2 separate regions of the Homo sapiens genome follow, and region 2 is linked to region 1. The links come from fine-mapping of genetic effects on gene expression. A gene starts in region 1. The other region holds a variant in brackets. All regions are shown on one strand. Distances are from middle to middle.

The links. PIP is the estimated chance that this variant, and not a neighbour inherited with it, causes the effect. A credible set is the group of variants that fine-mapping cannot tell apart.
Region 2: its variant is the best candidate, but not a certain one, in a credible set for the expression of SUGT1 in lymphoblastoid cells (GTEx, PIP 0.89).

The regions. Positions count from the first base shown.
Region 1 is chr13:52,651,141-52,654,063 of GRCh38, forward strand. SUGT1 (SGT1 assembly cochaperone of MIS12 kinetochore complex) reads left to right here and starts at 1,696. Exons shown (of 13, transcript NM_006704.5): 1 at 1,696-1,818; 2 at 1,906-1,963. The coding sequence starts at 1,781. SUGT1-DT (SUGT1 divergent transcript) reads right to left here and starts at 1,167. Exons shown (of 1, transcript NR_170300.1): 1 at 165-1,167. RefSeq lists enhancers at 997-1,336, 1,446-1,947, 2,057-2,176 and a silencer at 1,427-1,696.
Region 2 is chr13:52,558,625-52,561,547 of GRCh38, forward strand. All of the region lies in intron 2 of LINC00345 (long intergenic non-protein coding RNA 345), which reads right to left. It also overlaps the pseudogene TPTE2P3. Among named protein-coding and RNA genes, the nearest start is that of LINC00345, 40 kb to the right of the region's middle. The variant G/T (reference allele first, on the strand shown) is at 1,499.

The DNA of each region.
Region 1 (2,923 bases):
TCAGTGGGGTCCAGAAGGACAATTGGCCATTTAGATAACATTTGAAAACTAACCAAGGTAATTCACAGTAACATTAAAAAATACAAATGAACATTTCAATAAAGGCAGAAAAAGCAGTTGATATTCAATGCTTTCCTCCTGATGTTATGACCAAGACAAGGAAGTCCATTATCACTGTTTTTATTCAATAGTGGAAACACTAGCCAGCAACAAAAGGCAAAAATAAATAAAAATAAAAGGTATAAAGGTTACAGAGAAGTTAAACCATCTTTATTCGTGGATTGCAAGATTTTGATCACAGAAATTCCGAAAGAATCTACAGAGTATTACAAATAACAAGGGAACTTAGCAAGATGCTTGCATATAAGGTCAGTATGTTAAAATCAATATTGTTTATTCTTACGAGTAGAATATAAAAAAGTCAAAATGCCATTTAACATTGTATACAAAACACTAAATACTCAAGAATAAATCTAATGAAAGATATATATGATCTCTATACTGCAATCTATCCAAGCACAGCTGCATTAAAATATAGATATATGTGCAATCTACAAAATATTGCCAGGAGAAATTAAAGACCGCTTAAATAAATGGTGGGGGAAGAATGATATTCATGGATTGAAGGACTTGTTGTTAAGATACTAGTTTTCCCAAACAGATCTATAGATTCAATGCGAGCCCAATAAAAAATCCCCCCCCTTTTTAACAAGCTAATTCCAAAATTCACCTAGAAATACAAAGGCCGTAGAATAAGCCAAAACAATCTTGGGAGAATAAGTTACAGGACTTAAAGATTTATTATAAAACTACATTAAATTAACATAGTTTGGTACTGGTATAAAGTTAGACAAAGACTACTCCCTCCCGCTCCTCAATCTGCCCCCATCCCTAGAACGTGCTGGCAGCTTTCTCCATCCGATCTGCAAGGGTTAAAGGGCGCTGAGGAAGGGCTGACCGACTGGGGTGGGAAACAAAGCGGCACTGAGATAACTTCAGGCCACCTTCCTCCCCTCAGTACCTTCGGATGAAAGGTTTCCCTTCTTGGTCTGGGAAGCCCACTAAGAAGAAAGCCTGGGCTGTGGCGTTCTGGGGAAGTGAATAGTACGGCCGCCGGGCGCGTCGCCCCAGGAACCAGAAGGCTTTTTGCCGCTATTAGTGCAGAATGACTTCCGGCAAGTCCCAGTCGTTTAGAATCCCCAGCCCAAAGATCGCGGGGATCCACGCGTCATCCGGGCCTCTGCTCCCGGAAGAGACCACGCAGCCGCTAAAGACGTAATGGAGGCGAAAGGGCTTGGCTAGCTGTGGCAGCCATGATAAAAACTAGGGAAAATGGGAGCTCGAAGTAGCTTCCGTTATTAACAGACATACAAACGCCCCTAACCGCCACACGTTCCTTAGGGATGACAGTACGTTACAAAAGTGCTTCTAAAGTACTACTGAAAGCTCCGTGGGAGTGCCCGCTGGCGTGGGCGCGGTGGAAGGGAGGAAGAACGTGTACGCCCCAGGCCTCCGTAACCATGGCTGCGAGGGGCGGGGACTGGGAGCGCGGGTCCTGGGCCGGGGTGCGGCTGGGAGGAATCGGTCCTCCACTGTCCCAGCCGGCCCCGCGCCGGCGTGTCGCCTCCCGTCCCCCTAGCAGCACGCTGCGTGGCTGCTCGCTGGCTATTTAGGACGGAAGCTCGGTTGGTGTTTCTCCAGAAGTTTCCCCCTTGGGCGGTGGTGGAGGTGGTAACCGTGATAGTAGCAGCTCCGGCGGCAGCAACAGCGACTACGAGGGATGGCGGCGGCTGCAGCAGGAACTGCAACATCCCAGAGGTGCATGTTTTTCTTTCCCTTTGGTATTTATTTTATCCCCCTTTCCTTGGCTAGTGAGCCCTGCTGAAGTCGTTGTTTTCCTGACAGGTTTTTCCAGAGCTTCTCGGATGCCCTAATCGACGAGGACCCCCAGGCGGCGTTAGAGGTGAGAGAGCCCATTTCTGCTTCCTCCACTCTTCTTAGGGGAGCTGGGCCACTTCGGGTCCCCGCTGACCCGCCTTCTCCCCGCACCGCCGGACAGGGACCCAGGCTCTTGTTGATGCTGCGTCTCAGCTCCGGTATTGAGATTCTCCGTCTCTTTTCTCTGTTACACGGTAGCCGCGTTACCCCAGACTCCTGTCTTGCCCTTTCCACTCCCTACAGCTCCTGAGAAAAACCTCCTCTATTTCTTGGGAGCATGGTTGGCATTTGTAGTTTGGCTGAAAGGATTTTTTTTTTAATGACATTTATGATTAGAGAAGTGGACTCTGGGCTCGATGAAGTTAATTTTTTCGTTTGACAATAATTCTTGCCATTCTTACGTAAAAGTGTCGGTATGAAGTCAGTCTACTGGAGCAAAACCCTTTTCCCTCACGTCCCTGAAACTTTCCAGATGTCTTATCACAATTCATTATTCACTCATTTGTATATTCATCAAAATTTTTTTTTGGAGTGGCTGTGTGCAAAGGCGCTGATTGCTGTGGGTTAAAGTCTTGGTTATATACTCAGCTAACCTAGAAATCACTTTTTGTAGGTGTGCAATGAAGGCAAACCATAAAGCTGTAAAGGAATGTAAAAGATCAAGAGTTAAATAATAAGAATTAAAGGAGAACCTAAAGATAAATGATGCTGCGGGTCACAGAATTTAGCCAGGAGTTTTTGTTTGTTTTTGCGTTAAATCACAGAAAAGAGGAAACCTGTTTTGCTGTTACGTTTAACAATTTGAGGCAAGACAGCGTCTTTTCTAGCTATGACTTTTATAAGAAATGTGCCACATGGTACTAGAGCCTCCGTTGAGGAGATCTTTGAGTGGAGATTTGAAGGAACAAGGGAATTAACTTGGAAGCTCTGGGGAAAGAATATTCCAGGCAGGACCAAGAGCCAGTGCAGATCTTGAGGTAGGAAT
Region 2 (2,923 bases), 93 kb before region 1:
AGTTCTGGCCAGGGTGATCAGGCAGGAGAAAGAAATAAAGGGTATTCAATTAGGAAAAGAGGAAATCAAATTGTCCCTGTTTGCAGATGACTTGATTGTATATCTAGAAAACCCCATCATCTCAGCCCAAAATCTCCTTAAGCTGATAAGCAACTGCAGCAAAGTCTTGGGATACAAAATCAATGTGCAAAAATCACAAGCATTCTTATACACCAATAACAGACAAACAGAGAGCCAAATCATAAGTGAACTCCCATTCACGATTGCTTCAAAGAGAATAAAATACCTAGGAATCCAACTGACAAGGGATGTGAAGGACCTCTTCAAGGAGAACTACAAACCACTGCTCAACGAAATAAAAGAGGTTACAAACAAATGGAAGAACATTCCATGCTCATGGGTAGGAAGAATCAATATTGTGAAAATGGGCATACTGCCCAAGGTAATTTATAGATTCAATGCCATCCCCATCAAGCTACCAATGACTTTCTTCACAAAATTGGAAGAAACTACTTTAAAGTTCATATGGAACCAAAAAAGGGCCCGCATTGCCAAGTCAATCCTAAGCCAAAAGAAGAAAGCTGGAGGCATCACGCTACCTGACTTCAAACTATACTACGAGGCTACAGTAACCAAAACAGCATGGTACTGGTACCAAAACAGAGATATAGACATATAGAGATATGGAACAGAACAGAGCCCTCAGAAATAATACCACACATCTACAACCATCTGATTTTGACAAACCTGACAAAAACAAGAAATGGGGAAAGGATTCCCTATTTAAAAAATGGTGCTGGGAAATGGTGCTGGGAAAACTGGCTAGCCGTATGTAGAAAGCTGAAACTGGATCCCTTCCTTACACCTTATACAAAAATTAATTCAAGATGGATCAAAGACTTAAATGTTAGACCTAAAACCATAAAAACCCTAGAAGAAAACCTAGGCAATACCATTCAGGACATAGGCATGGGCAAGGACTTCATGTCTAAAACACCAAAAGCAATGGTAACAGAAGCCAAAATTGACAAATGGGATCTAATTAAACTAAAGAGCTTCTGCACAGCAAAAGAAACTACCATCAGAGTGAAGAGGCAACCTACAGAATGGGAGAAAATTTTTGCAATCTACTCATCTGACAAAGGGCTAATATCCAGAATCTACAAAGATCTCAATCAAATTTACAAGAAAAAAACAAACAACCCCATCAAAAAGTGGGTGAAGGATATGAACAGACACTTCTCAAAAGAAGACATTTATACATCCAACAGACACATGAAAAAATGCTCATCATCACTGGTCATCAGAGAAATACAAATCAAAACCACAATAAGATACCATCTCACACCAGTTAGAATGGCGATCATTAAAAAGTCAGGAAACAACAGGTGCTGGAGAGGATGTGGAGAAATAGGAACACTTTTACACTGTTGGTGGGACTGTAAACTAGTTCAACCATTGTGGAAGACAGTGTGGCGATTCCTCAAGGATCTAGAAC[G/T]AGAAATACCATTTGACCCAGCCATCCCATTACTGGGTATATACCCAAAGGATTATAAATCATGCTGTTATAAAGGCACATGCACACGCATGTTTATTGCAGCACTATTCACAATAGCAAAGACTTGGAACCAACCCAAATGTCCATCAATGACAGACTGGATTAAGAAAATGTGGCACATATACACCATGGAATACTATGCAGCTGTAAAAAAGGATGAGTTTGTGTCCTTTGTAAGGACATGGATGAAGCTGGAAACCATCATTCTCAGCAAACTATCGCAAGAACAAAAAACCAAACACCGCATGTTCTCATTCGTAGGTGGGAGTTGAACAGTGAGAACACTTGGACACAGGAAGGGGAACATCACACACCAGGGCCTGTTATGGGGTGGGGGGAGGGGGGAGGGAAAGCATTAGGAGATATACCTAATGTAAATGACGAGTTAATGGGTGCAGCACACCAACATGGCACATGTATACATATGTAACAAACCTGCACGTTGTGCACATGTACCCTAGAACTTAAAGTATAAAAAAAAAAAAAATTTGGGAGTCAGCTGGTCAAATACACACACCTGATAGAAATTTGTTTGGAATTGCGTTGAATCTATAGATTGGGGAGAATTGAATCTTTACAATATTGACCCATCCAACCCATGAAGAGAGATGTTCTCTCATTCAGTTAGGTTTCCTTCCATTTCTCTTTACAATGTTTTCTCATTTTCTGTGTAGAAAGCTTGCATATTTTTGATGAGATTTATTCCTAGATATTTGATATTTTGTGGTTATTTAAATGATATCCCTTTAAAATGTTTATTTTCTAAATGTTGTTGATTTAAATGCAGTTCATTTTATTCATTAATCTTGTATTTAGCAACTTGACTAAACTCACTTTTTGTTTGTTTGTTTGTTTGTGTGTTTTGAGATAGGGTTTCATTCTGTCACCCAGGCGGGAGTGCAGTGATGCGATCATGGCTCACTGCAGCTTCAACCTCCCTGGGCTCAGGGAATCCCTCCCACATCAGCCTCCCGAGTAGCTAGGACTGCAGGCAGGTGCCACCATGCCCAGCTAATTTTTTTATTTTTTTGTAGAAACGGGGTTTTGCCATGTTGCCCAGATTGGTCTCAAACTCCTGGGCTCAAGTGATCTGCCAGCCTCAGCCTCTGCCTCCTAAAATGCTAGGATTACAGGCCTGAGCCATTGTGCCCAGCCTAAACTCACTTATTAGTTCTACTAAATTATCTATAGATTCTTTTGGATTTTATAGTACACAGTTATATCATGTGAAAATAATACATTGTATTTTTTCCTTTTCAGTCATTTTCCCCCCTAGCACTGGCTAGAACCTTCAGTACAGTGTTGAATTAGAAGTGGCAACAGCAGCCATCAGTGTACACTTCTATTCTCAAAGGAAAAGCTTTC